2 linked regions of the Homo sapiens genome follow. Each later gene encodes a partner of the first gene's protein in a complex. Each region holds a gene or a part of one and is shown on either strand. Other genes may lie near its edges. A codon is read from its position in the direction of its gene.

Region 1 (10,824 bases):
TGAGCCGAGATCGTGCCACTGCACTCCAGCCTGGCAACAGAGCGAGACTCTGTCTCAAAAAAAAGAAAATTGAGTTTAACTGGGCCAGCTGGACAAGTTTTTTCCCAACTGTTGAGGGACTCTCTGAATTGGAGAATTTGTAACCCTTACCCCATGAAGGAAGAAACAATCCATGCTGCAAATGAAATGCTTTATAAAGGATGAAGCCATGCACCCACAGACATCTGCTGGGAACCCCCACAATACAGGTCTTCCTGTAGCTACAAAAGAAAAGAAATCCCAGCACTTTGGGAGGCTGAGACGGGTAGATCACTTGAGGTCAGGAGTCTGAGACCAGCCTGGCCAACATAGTAAAACCCCATCTCTAATAAAAATAAAAAATTAGCCGGGCATGGTGGCGCACACCTATAAATAATCTCAGCAGAGTCGAGGTCGTGTCACTGCACTCCAGCCTCGGCAACAAAGGAAGACTCTATCTCAAAAAAAAAAAAAAAAAAGAAAAGAAAGAAAGAAAAAGAAAAGAAATTCTCCTCAACATTTAAAAATTCACAAATTCAGAGATTTGGGGCCTGAACTCCAACCCTAAGTGAAAGCTTTGGCCTCAGGAAGGGCTCTGGAGAGTCCCTGTTGGGCCCTGCCCCACACTGGGCCGTGACAAAGGACGCCTCACGCTTGCTTGGTGGTCCAGATCACCTGTTCTTAGCAGGGAACTCCACCATCTCATGCAAATAGTCATCCTGACACTGAACATCCCTGAGAGGAAAGGCAGAGGGACCAGGCTTCAGGGAGGTGTGCCCCCCAATGAGCCTGCAGAACACTTCTTTTAGCCTGCTAAACTTAGCCAGGGGTGGGTCCAGTGGCTTAGGGAGGCATTCTGGTTGCCAGCCTCATGAGAGCTCTAGGAGGAGGGCAAAGGTCCAACCAGAGGAGGGACCAAGCTCCCAGTACAGATGTGTATGGCGAAGAAAGGATCTCTCTTGGAAACGACATGTTAAAAAGTTCCTGCAGGCCAGGCGGGATGGCTCACACCTGTAATCCCAGCACTTTGGGAGGCTGAGGTGGGTGGATCACCTGAGGTCAGGAGTTCGAGACCAGCCCGGCCAACATGGTGAAACCCCGTCTCTACTAAAAATACAAGAATTAGCCAGGCATGGTGGCATGCGCCTGTAGTCCCAGCTACTTGGGAGGCTGAGGCAGGTGAATCACTTGAACCAGGGAGGTGGAGGTTGCAGTGAGTGAGATCACACCATTGCACTCCAGCCTGGGTGACAGAGCAAGACTCCGTCTCAAAAAAAAAAAAAAAAAAAGTTCCGGCAAACTAAGCTTTGAGGAGGAAAAATTAGCATTTCTCAACTGCAGGAGACGGAGGCCACACTAAACAACAAGTGGAAAAGTTAATCTGTATCCAGTGTTTTAATAAATAACTCATGCGGGTGCAGAGCCCAGCTAAGAAGAACACAAGGGAAAGGGAGGCTCTCCACCAACCGGGTGGAGGCAGCCCCAGAAAGCCGGTCAGCGGCAGTTCCAGACCCCACGGGGGGTGCAGAACTGCTCCAAACTCCACTGGACATGTGCGCCAAGAAGTCACATTTGTGAGACAGAGCCTAGATCACCCATGGTGGTGAGGCATGGGCATGACCCATGCTTTTGGGCCAACTCCACACAAAGGCTGTCTTTGGAACCAGCCCGACTTGTACAGCAGATGACCTGCCCTGGGAAAATCCCACCAGGGAAGTCTGCCTGAGTTCTCAAATGCACTCTCCAACTACCCAGCCTTCCAGCCTCGGTTAGGGCCCCATAGGCTCTGTCTAGCCAGAGCTGTTGGTGGTACCAGGGACAGCCAGAAATCCTCACAGAGTGATGCTGAAACCACTTCTACAGCCGCATAGATCCCCACATTCCAGTCCACAGCTAGCTGGCCATGAAGGGGAAGGCCAGAGCTGCAAGCTCCGACAGCACTTGGCAGCTGAGGCTCAGCTGTCTGACACCTCCCAAGTCCCAGGGAAGAGTCCCACAGGACAATTTCTCCACTCAGGTCAGTTGGGAGCAGCCTTGGGGTTCCTAGAAAAGCACTCTGTTCTCTCCTGTGGCTGCCCAGACCTGGAACTTGTTCCATCTCTCCAACTTCAGAAATGGCTTCTTAAGAATCTTGATCAAAACAAGTGCTCTCTTGCCTGGTTTCCTTTAGTGAATGTGAATAAGGAAAGAACTTGAATGAAAATGGCCATCCCAAGGCTTATCAAATCATCATACTCTTCATCCCTTTTAGGGTTACCAGGGTGGGCATCCCCTCCTGACCCTGAAGCATGCCTGCCAGGAGCAAGAAGAAATGCAGAGGACCCCTCGCTTCTGCCTGTCCCTACCCTCAACAGGCTGTGAGGAGAAGGAAAGATCATAATAGGAGGAGGTACACAGCAGGCATTTAATAAATGCCGTTGCCAGGAGCACTGGCTCTTGCCTGCAATTCCAGCACTTTGAGAGGCCAAGGCAGGAGGATTGCTTGAGTCCAGTAGTTCGAGACCAGCCTGGGCAACATAGCAAGACCTCGTGTCAACAATAAAAAAAAAAAAATTTGCCGGGTGTGGTGGTGCATGCCTGTGGTCCCAGCTACTTGGGAGGCTGAGGTAGGAGGATCGTTTGAGCCAGAGTGGTTGAGGCTGCAGTGAGCCGTGACCTCGCCACTGCCCTCCAGCCTAGGCAACAGAGCGAGACCATCTCAAAAATAAAAATAAAAATAAATTCATATCAGTTTAAAAAAGGAGAGGATAACTTAAAAGGAACATGAAGTAAATAATACTACAAGTGGCAACAATTATGAAAGTGGCACTAGAAGTTTTTGAAATACTGAGCTAGAAGGTTTTTCAAGTCCCTCTCACTCCTAAAAGCGTTGTTGGTACCGCGTCAGGCTGCAGATGGCATCCCAGGCCCCTTCCTACAGGGTTCCTCTCAAACGCTACCTCCTCACTGCAGCCTCTAGCAATTCAGCAGCCTCACTAGAAGTTACTCCCTCTGCTCTGCTCCCAGACCGTGTTTTACACCCATGGACTGTAGCATTTATTACTCAATATTATAACCATCTTTACATGTTTATCTCCCCTCTAGAACATGAGCTCCTTCAGACAAGAATTATGTCTTGCTATTTTATCCCCCAAGACATCTATTACGATGTTCTGTGTCTGATACAAAGTAGGTGCTTGATGAATGTGTGCTGAAAAAATGAATCAATGCTTCTGCTCCTTTTTTGCTGAAGAGAAGACACAGACAGTGGAAGAATTGTTGCCAGAGATCCATTTGCCATCATTCCAACCCAGCGCCCCTTAGCACTTAAGCTGGATGGCAGAACACTTGCCTTTCTGGCCTAGCTTTGAGTACTAATTTAAATGAGGATTCATTAAGTCATTTTAAAGAGGCCCCACCATTACGAAATGTGTGGAAAATCACATTTTTCTTCAAGAAACTTAACAGGATCAAAAAGAAACCAGTCATCCCAGTACAAAGCCAATTATAAAGGTACCTATTCGTGTTTTATTATTTTTCTTTCTTTATTTATTTTTTGAGATAGGGTCTCGCTCTGTTACCCAAACTGGAGCGCAGTAGTGCAATTATGGCTTACTGCAGCTTCAAACTCCCAGGCTCCAGTGATCCTCCCACCTCAGCCCCCCAAGCAGCTAGGGCTACGATGCACACCACCATGTCTGGCTAATTTCTGTATTTTCTGTAGAGATGGGGGAGGGTCTCACTATGTTCCCCAGGCTGGTGTCAAACTCCTGGGCTCAAGCGATCCTCCTGCCTTGACCTCCAAAGTGCTAGGACTATAGGCATGAGGCACCATGCGCAGCCTATAGAAGTACTTTTGACTTCTGCAACATAGACCAGAACTGGGTAAATATCTGAGAACATTCCTTCCACATTCTTCTAGTGCCAGGATGTAATACTGGAAAATACTAGGCTTGATTGGTGACATGAAAACCCAAATAGAGGTTTCACTCTTGTCATAAATGACATATGAATACAAAGTGCTGTACCATGTAGAAATGAAACACATGTAAGAGGATAGTATTAAACCAGAAAAAAACAATAAGAAAGGTCCTATTTCAAATTAAGAGGTTGCCCCTTCTGAAATATGAGGCTTGCTCAATCACATTCTTCATGTTATTTTGGGCCTTGGGCCTATACCTAGCAGGTAGACTGGAAGAATCCTTAAGCCACATAGGAAATGATATTCTTTTAACCAGAATAAATCTGTCAACAAAAAGGTACAGGCTAGCTGCACTAAATACTCTCTGCAGGTTCTTATTAAAAATATAAATTAAGGTCCAGCATAGTCTCTTTACTCCCCACATCTGTTTGCTATTCTATCTCCATTATTAATACTGTAATGCTGGGTCCCCATTCAGGCAAGATTAATTCCCTCTTCCCAAATCCTTCTGCTGACACTGCAATGAATCCATTTGGAAGGCTGTAAAGGCAGCTGCAGACATTGCTCCCAACACGTGACCAGCGAAGAGATGAAACCTGGGCCTCTGAGCTTAACAAGAGAGAAGAGGAAGTTGGGTTAGGCCTGTGTTCAGAGAGGTGGAATAGCCCAGTGGTTAAAAGCTCAAACTCTGAGGCTGAATACAGTGGTTCACGCCTGTAATCCCAACACTCTGGGAGGCCAAGGCAGGAAGATCGCTTCAGCCCAGGCATCTGAGACCAGCCTGGGCAACATAGTGAGACCTCAACTCTACAGAAAATTTGAAAAATTAGCCAGGTGTGGTGGTGCATGCCTGTAGTCCCAGCTCCTTGGCAGGTTAAGGTGGGATAATTGCTTGAGCCCAGGAGGTTGAGGCTGCAGTGAGCCATGACTGAGCCACTACACTCCTGCCTGGGTGACAGAGCGTGACCCTGTCTCAAAAAACAAAACAAAAAAGCTCAAACTTTGGACTCAAACAGCCCAATTCAATCCCAGCTCTTTTACCCCTAGATCTGTAACTTTAGCAATTCATTTAACCCCTCAAGAGACTCATTTTTCTTATCTATAAAATAGGAATAACGAGACCCTGATAAGATTGTAAAGCATTTAACACAATGACACGGAAGACAGTAAGTACTAAACAAAGGGAAAAAAGGCTATCATCATCTTCTTTATGATACCATCATCATCTCCAGAATTGGTCGCTATGCAAAGGCAGGACAGGACGAGTCCTGCTACTCTTTCAACCTGCCCAGGTTAAGCAGCCACCACCAAGATAGAAAAGACATGGTATAAGGGGCAAAAAAGTACAAAAGGCAAAAACCAGAAGAGGATATGACAATACAAATAAAATCAGCTCTTGATTAACCATGCTAATGAGGTTGAGGGAAGACTATTTATTTTATTTTTAATTGACAGAATACAAACATAGAAAGATTACATTTAAATTGAAGAAAAGAAACTCTCCATCAAAAGAATATAAATAAAAAAAACTTTGTTTATTTTCATTATTATTATTATTATTATTACTTTTTTTTTTTTTTTTGAGATGGAGTTTCACTCTTGTTGCCCAGGCTGGAGTACAATGGCACAATCTTGGCTCACTGCAACCTACTCCTCCCAGGTTCAAGCAATTATCCTGCCTCAGCCTCCCTAGTAGCTGGGATTACAGGCATGTGCCACCACGCCCGGCTAATTTTATTATTTTTAGTAGAGACAGGGTTTCTCCATGTTGGTCAGGCTTGTCTCAAACTCCCAACCTCAGGTGATCCGCCTGCCTCGACCTCCCAAAGTGCTGGGATTATAGGCGTGAGCCACCACACCCAGCCTAATTATTATTTTTTTAAGACACAGTTTCACTCTGTTGCCCAGGCTGGAGCACAGTGGCACGATCTCAGCTCACTGCAACCTCTGCCTCCCAGGTTCAAGTGATTCTCGTGCCTCAGCCTCCGGGGTAGTTGGGAGTACAGGCACATGCTACCATGCCTGGCTAATTTTTTGTATTTTTAGTAGAGACAAGGTTTCACCATGTTGGCCGGGCTGGTCTCGAACTCCTGACCTCAAGTGAGCCACCTGCCTCAGCCCCACAAAGTGCTGGGATTACAGGCATGAGCCACTGTGCCCAGCCAAAAAAAATCTTTTTAAAATATAGATGGTAGCAGGCCGGGCACAGTCGTCACGCCTGTAATCCCAGCACTTTGGGAGGCCGAGGCAGGCAGATCACGAGGTCAGGAGATCAAGACCATCCTGGCTAACATGGTGAAACCCCGTCTCTACTAAAAATACAAAAATTAGCTGGGCGTGGTGGTGGGTGCCTATAGTCCCAGGTACTCAGGAGGCTGAGACAGGAGAATGGCGTGAACCCGGCAGGTGGAGCTTGCAGTGAGCCAAGATCACCCCACTGCACTCCAGCCTGGGCAACAAAGCGAGACTCTGTTTCTAAAAAAAATAGTTGGTAGCTTATTGGAGTACATGATATAATTGCTCAAAAGGCAAGAGAATACAGTCATTAACAGTATGAACTCTGAGTTGGGCACAGTGGCTCACACCCATAATCCCGACACTTTGGGAAGCTGAGGTGGAAGAACTGCTTAAGCCCAGGAGTTTGAGACCAGCCTGGGCAACATGGTGAAACCCTGTCTCTACAAAAAAATTACAAAAATTAGCTGGGCATGGTGGTGCTTGCCTGTCGTCCCAGCTACTCGGGAGGCTGAGGTTGGAGGATCACCTGAGCCTAGGGAGGTCGAGGCTGCAGTGAACCATGATCATACCACTGCACTCTAGCCTGGATGACAGAGTGAGACCCTATCTCCAAAAAAAAGCATATAGGGCAACAAACGGAAGCAGACTAAGATAAAAAAATAAATAAATACAGGTTAAAAGGAAGTAGGTAAGATAGATAAAGGATAAGAGATGAACAGATTTGTGATAAAGCAAGTATAAAGTTAACAGTAGAATCTGGGTTGTGGGTATATGAGTGTTCACTATAAAATCCTTCCAACTTTGCTTTATGTTTAAAATGTTTCATAATAAGCTAGGGGAATAAAAGGAAGTAGACACAGAGGCATCAGCCCAAGTTCTGAGTCATAACCATGCTACCTTCCTGTCCTATGAGCCCAAACTCCAGGGCAAGCTTAGAAAAACCTGATTTGGGAATCCTGCTCATCAAGACTTTCCTGCACTAGATAAGCAGGAATCAGGTGTTAACGAGGACCACCTTGGCATGAGTAGATATAGTCAGAGGGCAGAAATGCAGAGGTTCCACGGAGAAGTACCATGCTCACAGCACTATGACATTGTCACCCCTGCTCAGGAAGACCTCAGGAATAAGGCTCTGGATAAAGAACAGGTGGCATATACTCACTCATGGACTCTGTTGTCACCATAGAGATCACTCAGGCCGAAGCTGATGTAGTGCCAGTGCTCGGGGATGTTAGCAGAAGGGCTCCCCACATTCCTGTACATGCTAACATAGTCCAAGGGGTCTGGGCCACCCAACCTGCAAAAAACAAAACACAGGGGTGTTAGTGTAAGCCTGGAAATCAGACAATGTCAAGCTAAGGCGCTCTACTTTGTAAACCTAAAGGACCCATCCTGGAGGAACCTGGGTGAAAGGTAACTAAACAGAGGCCACATCTCTCCAGAATGAGACTAAGGGATGGACAGCTAAGGCTGCCCAACTCTGCAAGCCCAAGAGGCTCCCTTCTCCTACCCCTGAAAGACTGGGCCTCTTTTAGAAATAAAACAGACTGGATGGTTACCCATTTTGCTTTCTCCTGTTTCAAATTACCGATCCCAAATGAGATTGGCAGGGATTGTCTCTCTTCTGTGGTGCCTGTATACATGCCAAGCTTCAAGGCAAGAGGTACATCAGTCAATCAATTGGCCTCTGTTGAAAGACCATCCCAAGCATCCCCAATGGGCATTGTTCCTGGAAGCAGAGGCTCTGCTCCACTCCAGCCTCTTAGACAGCTAATTCCTGAAAGACTATATTGTGCCCTATGTTAATTACAGTTTGTTCTAAACAAACCCAAAGCCTCTAGTCTGTGCTGACACCAGCCTGCACCCCATAGACCAAAGCTGGTCTCTTATCATTGCAAGTGACAAAGGCCAAACTTAGGCTTAACTTAGTTCTGCACAGAGAACTGCAGAAGGAGTCAAACTGCGCCCTGTGAGCATCTGCACCCAGAAAATGATCCCAGGAGAGACTGCCACATCAAAGGTAGAGCTGGGATGGTAAATGATTTGGGGCCTCTCAGGACCACATTAAATTTCCCCCACCATTCAACTGAGAAGGAGTTGCGGAAGAGATTCAGTTATTATCTCACTCTGAGGATTTAATACAATAAGAGTTCCCTTTAGTAATCAGTGCTTTTTAAAAAAAATCCTGTTTTGGCCGGGCACGGTGGCTCACACCTGTAATCTCTGCACTTTGGGAGGCCGAAGTGGGTGGATTACTTGAGGTCAGGAGTTTGAGACCAGCCTGGCCAACATGGTGAAACCCCATCTCTACTAAAGATACAAAAAATTAGCCAGGTGTGGTGGCAGGTGCCTGTAATCCCAGCTATTTGCTATTTGAGAGGCTGAGGCAGGAGAATCGCCTGGACAACAGAGGCAGAGGTTGCAGGGAGCCAAGATTGCGCCACTGCACTCCAGCCTGGGTGACAGAGTGAGACTTTGTCTAAAAAAAAAAAAAAAAAAAAAAATGGATAAGAAATTTTGGTAGCTAGAGAAATAGACCAAATAGAAACCATCAGTGGAAGGAAGTCTGCATTTAGCCCACAAACACGGCATTTGAGCTGCCTCAAACATCTGACCATTCCACAGACTGCAAAAGCTTCACCTGCCCCTGGGACATCGATGGAGTACACTTTGCAACTGGGATAGCATGCTGGTGGAAAGCTAACAACCAAATAAAAGACATGTTACAAGTGATCCCAGTCAATGGTGCCAGCACCAGGCAATTTAAACACTATTTAAAACCAGTTGGTCTTGTTTCGTCCTCTTTCACCAGGATATTATTTGCCTTTGTGGATAGAAATCCCTATTCTCTGTTAGGAAATGCTAAGTTATTTATAGAACTTTTAAGAAAGTTGCTACAAATAGCTTAGCATCTCAACAGAGGAAGAGGGACAACTCTCCATGTCTGCCTTAACTGATTTCAACAAATCACTTGACTAATTCTACAACAGGTTGGATTTAGAAAAGTTTGTGGGGCAAGGGAAGAAAGAAAAGAGTAGAGATCCCTGGAAAGACCCCATTAGAGCTACAGAACTCCAGAGCAGATGAGAGCCACTACAGGCCCCATACCTGCTCCAGTTTCCTGCTGCAAATTTCCAAACCTGCCCCGCTACAGCCTAGGTCCATCCTGCACCAAGCTGCAAAACTGTGTTTACCATTCTCTGCTCCATCTGCAGCATCCCTGCAGCCCTCTTTCTCACCAAGTCTCCCACAAGGTGTCACATCAAGGAGAGAAGCTTAACCTTCAAACTCCAACTGCAAGGAACTACCAAGAGTCAGATAAAATTAACCCTGTCCCCAAGCACAGAGTATTCTGTTTACTTACTACTCAGAGGCCAGATGAGTATGTGGAAAAAAATCGCATTTTACACTTAGCAAATGATGTTATCCAAGGTCCCAGGGCATCCCTCAACTTAATTCCTTGAACACCCAACTTCTCTCTGCAGGGCAGTTGCAGGACTGAAGTGGGCCATGAGTACAGGTTCTGCCTCTCTGCTTTGATCCTTGCTCACCAAAGTCTCAGCTTTCAGTTAGAATGTCCCCACTACTCAGGGATCACCAGTCACAGAGCCACACTGCTATTGCAAAATGAATCCCAAGCTACCCTGGGCCACAGACAGACCCAGACAGCCTGGGTCAGTCATCCTGCTAGAAACCTCGTGGGATCCCAAATGTGAGGAATATAAATGAATTTCAGGATCTTATTTTTGCAAACCCCTCCACATCTTAGAAAGTACCAGTCACTGATGGCTGGTCGCACTGGCTCACGCCTGTAATCCTAGCACTTTGGGAGGCCGAGGTGGGTTGATCACTTGAGGTCAGGAGTTCGAGACCAGCCTGGCCAACATGGTGAAACTCTGCCTCTACTAAAAATACAAAAATTAGCTGGGCAAGGTGGCGTGTGCCTGTAATATCAGCTACTTGGGAGGCTGAGGCACGAGAATCGCTTGAAACCGGGAGACAGAGGTTGCAGTAAGCCAAGATCGTGCCACTGCACTCCAGCCTGGGTGACAGAGCAAAACTCTGTCTCAAAAAAAAAAGAAAGTACCAGTCACTGTGCTGTTTCTCTTTATACTTTTCTGCATCTAGGAAGGGCTTTCACAAAGTGCTGTATAATCCCTTTTCTTCATTATCACATGTTGGCCCATCTCTGAAGATATGGCTGTTAACAAGCTTGCAGCAGGAAGGAAAAAAAAATTGCCCTTAGTCCTTTGCACATGCTTTCATACCTTTTACATACAATTCTATCCTTTATGGCTACTTGGGTGACATAAAAATAGTTGCCTGAATCTGTGTAGGGATTTCTCCTCACACTCAAATGAGGCCTGAACAAACAGCGTGGCAGAGCCAGGCCCACTTCTTTTTTTTTTTTTTTTTTTTTTTTTTTCAAATAACAGAGTTAGGGTCTGGCTACGCTCCCCACACTGGTCTCGAACTCCTGGCCTCAAGGGATCCTCAAGGCCTCCCAAAGTGGTGGGAATACATGCATGAGCCACTGTGCCCAGCCCAGGCCCACTTTTCTCCTGACACATGACAACAAGTTCATCACAACACATAGTTAAATATAAAGGCACAATGAGAATGGGTCATTAAGCTAGCAAGAGCTGCTTTCCACTCAGAAGCGCTCT
Region 2 (10,824 bases), on another chromosome or scaffold:
ATGTGCTGAGAGGAGGAGGGAAGAATGTGGCCCGCCCCTCAGCCCCCACCCCTATGGCTCGCTCTACTGGGCTCCCGGGGCGGGTGGGGGGAGCGGAGCCGTCTGCAGCCAGTGCCTGCGGCGGCGACTTGGGTGGGCCGAGGAGGCACGGGGGCGGGGAAGGCGGGACCGGGAGTAGGGGGGCGGAGCCGACTCCTGGGAGTTGGGGAGCGGGGGTGCGAGGGGGACGCTGGAAAACAGGGAGACACCGAAGATGGTTTAGGGCTCCGGCAGGGGAACCCTAGAGCTCCCTGTCCCATCCCGAACTCTCACACCCCAGAAAAACTTTACCGAAGCTAAAAAAGTTGGCGACATTTTCCTTTTACTAGCCTGAAGGGGAGATATGGGTGGGCTGTGGAACGCGTGGGCGAGGAGGGGTGTAGCCCCATTTCCTTGGAGGCTCTTCGGCAGCTAGGCAGTGGGGCAGAAAGATGACTGAGTAGGCAAGTTTGGGGGAGTCTCTAGTGTTTGGGGGATCATTTGCAAACTTCCCTCCTTCCCCTGGGTGAGTCATAGAGGGAAGGAGGCGGGAGAATTGTCCCCCCATCCAGCTGCCAACCAGCTGTGCCCCCCGCCCCCCAACATTAGTTCCAAGGTCGAGTTGGGAGGTCTTGGATGCGGGATCCGCACCTCGGTTGGAAAAGGAGGAGTTAGAAAAGGGTACAGCCCAGGCTGCCGGGCCGGGCTGGGTCGCGGGGTCCGGGTTCCGCTCCCCATCTCACCCCGCCCTCACCCTAAATCCCAGCATCCCGGGATCACCCACCGCGCCGGCCGGCCCGGCCCGCTCCCGGTGGTTCTCCACCCCATCCCGCCCCACCCCACCCTCATTCCCGGGAGACTGGAAAACCCGGGATGGAGTCAAAACTGGAGTTTGAAAAGAAAAACGGACAGCAGCACCTTCTTCCTCGCTACGCTTTTATAAGGATCACATTGTTTTTTTCATTCTCTCAGAGTCTCCCCTCATACTTCCTTTCCTGTTCCCCCAAAACAGAGACCAAAAAGATTAGGTGGGCCTGATTTAAACTACCCCAGAATAACACCAGCTTTCACCTTTGTGCCCAACAGACCCAGAAGACTCCCCTCAGGAACCTTACCTCCTCCTCCACACTGTTTTCTGTCTAAGAGGGCAGATGGCTTGTGCTCCCTCCTGGCCCCACCTGGCTCTGTGTCGGGACTGTGGCTAGGGCTCCCTCTGCTGGACACTGCAGAGATTGTACACGGGCTGTCCCTGGGGAGGGGCACGAGAAGGAAGGGGGAACGGGCTCTAGCAGAGCCGCCCAGTGCTTGAAGTCAGATCCATCACACGAGTTCTCCCATCCCACCCTCAAAGCCGGCCCAGGGTTACAGCAAGAAGAATTAGAGGGTCCATGTTACTAAAATCACTTGAAGTTAATATAGGCACAATTAGTCCAAAACATGCCTTCTACACACAGACCACACAGGCAAAGCTCCCACCCAGGCAAAGCTCCCACCCAGTTCCCAAGAAGATCCCCAGAGTACACAGACTACAAGACTGCCTCTGCCTCTCTGGGACATCATTTCCCCTTACCCCTCCCCTCACTCAGCGAGTGATGCTTTTTTTGTTTTGAGACGGAGTCTAGCTCTGTCACCCAGGCTGGAGTGCAGTGGCACCATCTCGGCTCACTGAAACCTCCGCCTCCCAGGTTCAAGCGATTCTTCTGCCTCAGCCTTCCGAGTAGCTGGGATTACAGGCACCCGCCATCATGACTGGCTAATTTTTGTTTTTTTGTAGAGACGGGGGTTTCACCATGTTGGCCAGGCTGGTCTTCAACTGACCTCAGGTGATCCTCCCGCCTCAGCCTCTCAAAGCGTTGGAATTACAGGCGTGAGCCACTGTGCCCGGCTCAGTGATGCTCTTTTCAACTCGAATTCCGTGGCAGATGTCTTAGAGGGGTGGGGGATACCAGGGATGTTCTGCCCAGGATTCTGTGCCTGAGACTGCTGTCTGACAGTCTCTATTTCCTCCACCTTTATACCTACCTTCCCTTTCTGCAGTGTCCCCACACCCTCCTCTGAGACGCCATGTTCAACTCGATGACCCCACCACCAATCAGTAGCTATGGCGAGCCCTGCTGTCTCCGGCCCCTCCCCAGTCAGGGGGCCCCCAGTGTGGGGACAGAAGGTCAGTGTATATACCAATCCCTGGGCCTTGAGGATTTGGCAGATCTCCCACTTGGGCCCACCCCCACCCCATGCCAGTTTCCTATCTACAGGAGGATTTGAGGCCCCATGTCATATGGACCTGGAATCTGGGATCAGGTCATGTCTGGGGTTTTAAGGTGAGGTTTATGTATCCTCCATTCCCATTCCAGCTGTCTCTTTTTTCTAGGACTGTCTGGCCCGCCCTTCTGCCACCAAGCTAACCTCATGTCCGGCCCCCACAGTTATGGGCCAGCCAGAGAGACCAACAGCTGCACCGAGGGTGAGGGCTCAGGCAACACCTCTTCCCTTTCTGCCCCTCTCTGACTTGTTCTGAAAGAGAAAGTGGGAGGGCAGGGGATCTCACTTGGAGGAGGAGATGCTTGGAGATGTGAGGCGTCAGAGCACCATCAAGAAGTCACAGATGGGGCCGGGCGCGGTGGCTCACGCCTGTAATCCCAGCACTTTGTGGGGAAGCCGTGGCAGGAAGATCGCTTGAGGTCGGGAATTCAAGACCAGCCAGGCCAACATGGTGAAACCCTGTCTCTACTAACAATACAAAAATTAGCCGGGCGTGGTGGCTTGCACCTGTAGTGCCGATTACAGGGGAGGCTGAGGCAGGAGAATCACTTGAACCTGGGAACGCAGAGGTTGCAGTGAGGCAAGATGGTGCCACGCACTCCAGCCTGGGTTACAGAGCATGACTCTGTGTCTCTCAAAAAAAAAAAAAAAAAGTCACAGATAGCATCAATAGGGCAAAGCAGAATCAAGTATCATTGGTTTTGCCAAGTCAGGACCCATAGGTTAGGTGCATGGAGAGACATGCCCCTTTACCATATCCGTCTCCGCTGTCTCCTGCCCCAGGCCCACTCTTTTCTTCTCCCCGGAGTGCAGTCAAGTTGACCAAGAAGCGGGCACTGTCCATCTCACCTCTGTCGGATGCCAGCCTGGACCTGCAGACGGTTATCCGCACCTCACCCAGCTCCCTCGTAGCTTTCATCAACTCGCGATGCACATCTCCAGGAGGCTCCTACGGTCATCTCTCCATTGGCACCATGAGGTGCAGTCAGCCCCGGGCCAAGAGGCCCCTAAAGCCCCTACCCAAGTCCATTAAAAGTCTCAAGCCCTCAAACTACCTAACCCTATTTGAATCCTTGTCATTTCAAAGACAACTCTCCTCAGTACTTCCCTGGGACTGCCTCAACCACTACAAATCCCAAGTCTTCCAGAAATCCTCCAAATAGCCCAATCCTTCCTGAGACTTCCTAATTGTCTTAAGTAACTGCCTCCTCTCCTCCTCAGCCCATCTCTGGGATTCCCAGCCCAGATGAATCACCAAAAAGGGCCCTCGCCTTCCTTTGGGGTCCAGCCTTGTGGTCCCCATGACTCTGCCCGGGGTGGGATGATCCCACATCCTCAGTCCCGGGGACCCTTCCCAACTTGCCAGGTGAGAGTCCCCATATTGCTACCTGATTTCCCTCAGCTCAGGGTGGGTGGGTGGTGGATTTTGTAGGGGAAAGGTGAAGGAAGGACAAGGGATATAAGTTTTCAGTACTAGAAAAGTAAAGAGGTGTGGGTGCTGGGGTTCACTCCTTGCAGTTGAGTCAGACGCTTCCAAATGGGATCCCACCTTTTGCCCATCCCATTCACCAGTGTAGTCTGAGGAGGAAGTCCCTTCCAAACCCAGGAGGTTCCAGCTGCTTGGGTGGGGGCACTTAGGGCAGGAAGACCTGGCTTGGTTTCCTCTTCCTTCTGCTTACTTCCACCCTCATCACCGTCACCTCTTCCCCTGGGGAAGCTGAAGTCTGAGCTGGACATGCTGGTTGGCAAGTGCCGGGAGGAACCCTTGGAAGGTGATATGTCCAGCCCCAACTCCACAGGCATACAGGTAAGGGGATGGGCAGGAGCTTTACCTCTGGGACCTGAGCAAAACTAAAGCTGTCACCCAAGTGACCCTGAGATTGCCTCTCTTGCCCTAGGATCCCCTGTTGGGGATGCTGGATGGGCGGGAGGACCTCGAGAGAGAGGAGAAGCGTGAGCCTGAATCTGTGTATGAAACTGACTGCCGTTGGGATGGCTGCAGCCAGGAATTTGACTCCCAAGAGCAGCTGGTGCACGTGAGCCCCAGGGGGTAACAGGAATGGCTAGCCAGAACCTTTAGGAGATTCTGAGTGGGACATGGTGGAATCCGGCTGAGGGCAGGAGGTCAGAGGAGACTGAGGTTGAATGCTCAGTTGGGTAGGCAGAAGCTCAGAAGTTGTAGCTTTGCCTTAGGGAGCTGGAAGACCTGAGATGTGAGATATGATATTGCTCCTGCCTCTTCCTCCTTGAGGTGGAGTCGTGGAAGAGGAACAGGGGGTGGAGGGAAGGTCTGTTCTGGACCTCAGGGTCATGGGAGAGCCTTGGAGAGCCTTTGTATCTTCTCCCTCAGCACATCAACAGCGAGCACATCCACGGGGAGCGGAAGGAGTTCGTGTGCCACTGGGGGGGCTGCTCCAGGGAGCTGAGGCCCTTCAAAGCCCAGTACATGCTGGTGGTTCACATGCGCAGACACACTGGCGAGAAGCCACACAAGTGCACGGTGAGGCACCAGTGTCCCAAGTCCAGGGTCTCTTCCTAAATCAGGGCTCTCCTTCAAGGTAGGGCCCAAGGCAGACTTTTGCTTTTATAAGTCCTTTCTTCCATAAACAAATATTAAAAATAATGTTTGTGTGACTGTGTTGGCATAAAGATGAATATGATGATATATATTAAAACACTCTTGGACCTAAAAGCTCATTTTTTTCCCCTTGATTTTAAAAGACATTAAAACAGGCCAGGCACGGTGGCTCACACCTGTAATCCCAGCACTTTGGGAGGCTGAGCCAGGCAGATCACAAGGTCAGGAGTTCGAGACCAGCTTGGCCAATATTGGTGAAACCCTGTCTCTACTAAAAAATATAAAAATTAGCTGGGCGTGGTGATGGGCGCCTGTAGTCCCTGCTACTTGGGAGGATGAGGCAGAAGAATCACTTGAACCAAGGAGGTGGAGGTTGCAGTGAGCTGAGATGGCGCCACTGCACTCCAGCCTGGGCGACAGAGCAAAACTCCGCCTCAAAAAAAAAATTTTTTTTAAAAAAGACATTAAAACATGTTCGTGGGCCTCTTAAAGTATTGTTGGCCTTCAGTACTGTGCCTACTACTCTGCCTAATGGATAAACCCTGCATCAAGGACAACAGCCCGTTCCCCCAAGATGACCCCATCTTGGGACAGCCTAAGATCCCCATGCAGAGAAATCTGCCCTGGCTTGGTCAGAAGATGCTCTAGCATCTTTATATTCCCAAAGGGAGAGTGCCTCCAACTGCTTCCCTTCTCCAAGTTCTTGCCTGCCCTTGTCCCCTAGTTTTGGGAATTCTCTCGAAGCCCCAGTGCCTTTCATCTTGAGTTATATTCTCTGATGTGTGTCCTGTTGGAGATTGAGGGTTCCTTCCATCTCCATGTCCTCTGTCTGAGAACTATCCTTTGACCCCTGCATGTCCCCCAGTTTGAAGGGTGCCGGAAGTCATACTCACGCCTCGAAAACCTGAAGACGCACCTGCGGTCACACACGGGTGAGAAGCCATACATGTGTGAGCACGAGGGCTGCAGTAAAGCCTTCAGCAATGCCAGTGACCGAGCCAAGCACCAGAATCGGACCCATTCCAATGAGGTGAATGCCCTAACTAAGCGACCCTCCCCTCTTGAGAAGCCACCTACCAGGGAGATTCCCCCATAAGAAATCCCTTAGCCCAGCACCCACTCCACAGAGGTGAGTCCCCCTCCCCACATAATTCGCCCAGAAAAGGCTTTTCTGAAACCCAGAATTTCCACTTAACCACTCCTCCTCCTACCTCTAACCTCTAACCAGCCAAAAGGCTAACCTAAAAGATTCCATCTAGAGGAGACCCCTGATCCCTCCAACCCCTGGATTTATGGGACCTCACAGCCCTGGGTTCACCCCCTCATCTTTCCCAGGCTGTCAGTTTTCCTAACCCTCCACTTAATCTCTGCATCTTTGACTCCCACCGGAGGCCTCCATCCTCCTTACTTCCTTTGGTGCTGTGTGCTCCTCCCCTGCCCCCTGTGTTGTCACCACTTTTTCCCATTTCTTCTGCATTCTTCCGCTTTGATCCGTTTGCCTTCTGTCTCCACTCTCCACTCAACAGAAGCCGTATGTATGTAAGCTCCCTGGCTGCACCAAACGCTATACAGATCCTAGCTCGCTGCGAAAACATGTCAAGACAGTGCATGGTCCTGACGCCCATGTGACCAAACGGCACCGTGGGGATGGCCCCCTGCCTCGGGCACCATCCATTTCTACAGTGGAGCCCAAGAGGGAGCGGGAAGGAGGTCCCATCAGGGAGGAAAGCAGACTGACTGTGCCAGAGGGTGCCATGGTGAGAGAGCCCAGGCAACCCTCACCTCCATACCCCAGCCCACCCTGTGGACATCTTTCTAGTTACTTCCCAACCCATCCATTCCCTCCTATAGAAGTCACTCTTCTGTGACCAGTCTGCCTGTCTCTTGTCTTAGTGTTGCTCTTTGGGCTTCCCCAAATCTAGAGGTTTTAGAATCTTTCTGTCTCACTCTCTCACTCTCTTTCTCTCTCTCCTTCCTTCCTTCTTTCCTTCTTTCCTTTCTTCCTTTCTTTCTTTCTCTCTCTCTCTCTTTCTCTCTTTCTTTCTGACAGAGTCTTGCTCTGTCGCCCAGGCTGGAGTGTAGTGGCATAATCATAGCTCACTGCAGCCTCAAACTTCTGGGCTCAAGTGATCACTACAGGCACACCCCATCATGCCTGGCTAATTTTTCTTCTTTTTAGAGATCGAGTCTTGCTATGTTGACCAGGCTGGTCTCAAACTCCTGGCCTTGAGCGATCCTCCCACCTCAGCTTCCCACAGTGCTGGGATGAGCCAATGCATCCAACCCAAACTCTTTCTTTTTTTTTCAGACGGAGTCTCGCTCTGTTGCCCAGGCTGGAGTGCAGTGGCATGATCTCGGCTCACTGCAACCTCCGCCTCCCAGGTTCACGCCATTCTGCCTCAGCCTCCTGAGTAGCTGGGACTACAGGCGCCTGCCACCACGCCGGGCTAATTTTTTTGTATTTTTAGTAGACATGGGGTTTCACTGTGTTAACCAGGGTGGTCTTGATCTCCTGACCTCGTGATCTGCCCACCTCGGCCTCCCAAAGTGCTGGGATTACAGGCGTGAGCCACTGCACCCGGCAACTCTTTCTTAAATAGCACTTAGTATATGTTCCAAGCCTTTTACATGTATAATTTCATGTACTCCTCACAGCAACTTCATGATAAAGGGACTCACTGTTCCCATTTTCAGTTGAAGAAACTCAGGCATAGAGAAATAGCCCAAGGTCATAGAACTAAGAGCAAGAATTTGAGTCCAGCCAGTCCGTGCTCCAGCCTAGGTTCTTCTCATCAAACGTCTCACATTCAGTTTGCTCCCCCATCTCTTACCTGCTTAGCCCTTTCTACACTTACAAGCTTCCTTGGAACCCCAGCAGTCACTGGGACACAGGCTTCAGCCACTCATCAAGTTGAAGGAGCTGTGGGGAAGGGTGTTGCCCTCAGACCTCATCTTCTCCACAGAAGCCACAGCCAAGCCCTGGGGCCCAGTCATCCTGCAGCAGTGACCACTCCCCGGCAGGGAGTGCAGCCAATACAGACAGTGGTGTGGAAATGACTGGCAATGCAGGGGGCAGCACTGAAGACCTCTCCAGCTTGGACGAGGGACCTTGCATTGCTGGCACTGGTCTGTCCACTCTTCGCCGCCTTGAGAACCTCAGGCTGGACCAGCTACATCAACTCCGGCCAATAGGGACCCGGGGTCTCAAACTGCCCAGCTTGTCCCACACCGGTGAGACCTGGGTGTGGGAGGTGTGGCTGGGGTGAGATCTGGACCTGCCCTGAGGTTGAGAGGAGGAAGTCACCCTTGAGGGCTGTCACACAGCACTTTTGTATAATTAGAAAATGGTGTCCTTCCTCAAGACACTTTCCATTTATCAGAAAATAGTTGTGATGTACAAACATGCAAAGGCTAGCCAGGCATGGTGGTGGGCACCTGTAATCCCAGCTACTCAGGAAGCTGAAGCAGGAGAATTGCTTGAACCTGGGAGGCAGAGGTTGCAGTGAGCTGAGATTGCGCCATTGCACTCCAACTTGAGCAACAAGAGCGAAACTCTGTTTCAAACAAAACAAAACAAAACAAACAAACAAACAAGTATGCAAAGGCTATGATGCGAATGCTGTTCCCTAGGATTGTGCAGCACACAACCTGCACAACTGTTCATAGCAACCCTGAATCCTTGGTAACCCAGAAACAGAATAGGCATGGGAGAAGTAGGAGACAGAACAGACTGGTTAGGGATAACGAGCTTACCCCTGAGAATCCAGGGCAAGGCTGTTGCATGGAGGAGGCAGGGTGAAATTTAGGAAGCTCCTTGACCATCCTACCTTTTCTCCCCATCACTTGCAGGTACCACTGTGTCCCGCCGCGTGGGCCCCCCAGTCTCTCTTGAACGCCGCAGCAGCAGCTCCAGCAGCATCAGCTCTGCCTATACTGTCAGCCGCCGCTCCTCCCTGGCCTCTCCTTTCCCCCCTGGCTCCCCACCAGAGAATGGAGCATCCTCCCTGCCTGGCCTTATGCCTGCCCAGCACTACCTGCTTCGGGCAAGATATGCTTCAGCCAGAGGGGGTGGTACTTCGCCCACTGCAGCATCCAGCCTGGATCGGATAGGTGGTCTTCCCATGCCTCCTTGGAGAAGCCGAGCCGAGTATCCAGGATACAACCCCAATGCAGGGGTCACCCGGAGGGCCAGTGACCCAGCCCAGGCTGCTGACCGTCCTGCTCCAGCTAGAGTCCAGAGGTTCAAGAGCCTGGGCTGTGTCCATACCCCACCCACTGTGGCAGGGGGAGGACAGAACTTTGATCCTTACCTCCCAACCTCTGTCTACTCACCACAGCCCCCCAGCATCACTGAGAATGCTGCCATGGATGCTAGAGGGCTACAGGAAGAGCCAGAAGTTGGGACCTCCATGGTGGGCAGTGGTCTGAACCCCTATATGGACTTCCCACCTACTGATACTCTGGGATATGGGGGACCTGAAGGGGCAGCAGCTGAGCCTTATGGAGCGAGGGGTCCAGGCTCTCTGCCTCTTGGGCCTGGTCCACCCACCAACTATGGCCCCAACCCCTGTCCCCAGCAGGCCTCATATCCTGACCCCACCCAAGAAACATGGGGTGAGTTCCCTTCCCACTCTGGGCTGTACCCAGGCCCCAAGGCTCTAGGTGGAACCTACAGCCAGTGTCCTCGACTTGAACATTATGGACAAGTGCAAGTCAAGCCAGAACAGGGGTGCCCAGTGGGGTCTGACTCCACAGGACTGGCACCCTGCCTCAATGCCCACCCCAGTGAGGGGCCCCCACATCCACAGCCTCTCTTTTCCCATTACCCCCAGCCCTCTCCTCCCCAATATCTCCAGTCAGGCCCCTATACCCAGCCACCCCCTGATTATCTTCCTTCAGAACCCAGGCCTTGCCTGGACTTTGATTCCCCCACCCATTCCACAGGGCAGCTCAAGGCTCAGCTTGTGTGTAATTATGTTCAATCTCAACAGGAGCTACTGTGGGAGGGTGGGGGCAGGGAAGATGCCCCCGCCCAGGAACCTTCCTACCAGAGTCCCAAGTTTCTGGGGGGTTCCCAGGTTAGCCCAAGCCGTGCTAAAGCTCCAGTGAACACATATGGACCTGGCTTTGGACCCAACTTGCCCAATCACAAGTCAGGTTCCTATCCCACCCCTTCACCATGCCATGAAAATTTTGTAGTGGGGGCAAATAGGGCTTCACATAGGGCAGCAGCACCACCTCGACTTCTGCCCCCATTGCCCACTTGCTATGGGCCTCTCAAAGTGGGAGGCACAAACCCCAGCTGTGGTCATCCTGAGGTGGGCAGGCTAGGAGGGGGTCCTGCCTTGTACCCTCCTCCCGAAGGACAGGTATGTAACCCCCTGGACTCTCTTGATCTTGACAACACTCAGCTGGACTTTGTGGCTATTCTGGATGAGCCCCAGGGGCTGAGTCCTCCTCCTTCCCATGATCAGCGGGGCAGCTCTGGACATACCCCACCTCCCTCTGGGCCCCCCAACATGGCTGTGGGCAACATGAGTGTCTTACTGAGATCCCTACCTGGGGAAACAGAATTCCTCAACTCTAGTGCCTAAAGAGTAGGGAATCTCATCCATCACAGATCGCATTTCCTAAGGGGTTTCTATCCTTCCAGAAAAATTGGGGGAGCTGCAGTCCCATGCACAAGATGCCCCAGGGATGGGAGGTATGGGCTGGGGGCTATGTATAGTCTGTATACGTTTTGAGGAGAAATTTGATAATGACACTGTTTCCTGATAATAAAGGAACTGCATCAGAAAAAATACCATGCCACTTTATGTATTATTATGTTGGGGAGGAATGATAACAGGGAACAAGAAGAGAAGCAGGGGTTAATCCACTCACTTTCCTCTTTAGAGAAGCTCCCTCACCCATCCCAACACCTCAAGTCACACTCATGAAGATAGAGACAGTCATTTGGGAGATTT

The links.
Region 2: the proteins of SUFU (region 1) and GLI1 are in contact, whole or in part, in a crystal structure (PDB 4KMD), measured with the Homo sapiens proteins. Residues at the interface, in NP_057253.2 of Homo sapiens: Leu144, Tyr147, Asn153, Thr154, Phe155, Gly158, Asp159, His160, Val161, Ser162, Trp163, His164, Gln212, Asn265, Leu266, Ser267, Gly268, Val269, Ser270, Ala271, Glu376, Leu380, Lys398; in NP_005260.1 of Homo sapiens: Gly119 (codon at 3,225), Ser120 (codon at 3,228), Tyr121 (codon at 3,231), Gly122 (codon at 3,234), His123 (codon at 3,237), Leu124 (codon at 3,240), Ser125 (codon at 3,243), Ile126 (codon at 3,246), Gly127 (codon at 3,249).

Annotation. Positions count from the first base shown.
Region 1 is NC_000010.11:102,505,799-102,516,622, reverse strand, and holds part of SUFU (suppressor of fused homolog), read right to left. Parts: intron 8,345-10,824; exon of another isoform or gene 7,717-8,344; intron 7,455-7,716; coding exon 7,320-7,454; intron 1-7,319. UniProt on the Homo sapiens protein: Negative regulator in the hedgehog/smoothened signaling pathway. Down-regulates GLI1-mediated transactivation of target genes. Down-regulates GLI2-mediated transactivation of target genes. Part of a corepressor complex that acts on DNA-bound GLI1.
Region 2 is NC_000012.12:57,461,610-57,472,433, forward strand, and holds the end of GLI1 (zinc finger protein GLI1), read left to right. Parts: intron 1-1,133; exon of another isoform or gene 1,134-1,363; intron 1,364-2,055; 5' UTR 2,056-2,082; coding exon 2,083-2,182; intron 2,183-2,389; coding exon 2,390-2,482; intron 2,483-3,063; coding exon 3,064-3,259; intron 3,260-3,501; coding exon 3,502-3,646; intron 3,647-3,997; coding exon 3,998-4,087; intron 4,088-4,178; coding exon 4,179-4,316; intron 4,317-4,630; coding exon 4,631-4,780; intron 4,781-5,723; coding exon 5,724-5,888; intron 5,889-6,384; coding exon 6,385-6,615; intron 6,616-7,821; coding exon 7,822-8,089; intron 8,090-8,707; coding exon 8,708-10,452; 3' UTR 10,453-10,659; downstream 10,660-10,824. UniProt on the Homo sapiens protein: Acts as a transcriptional activator. Binds to the DNA consensus sequence 5'-GACCACCCA-3'. Regulates the transcription of specific genes during normal development.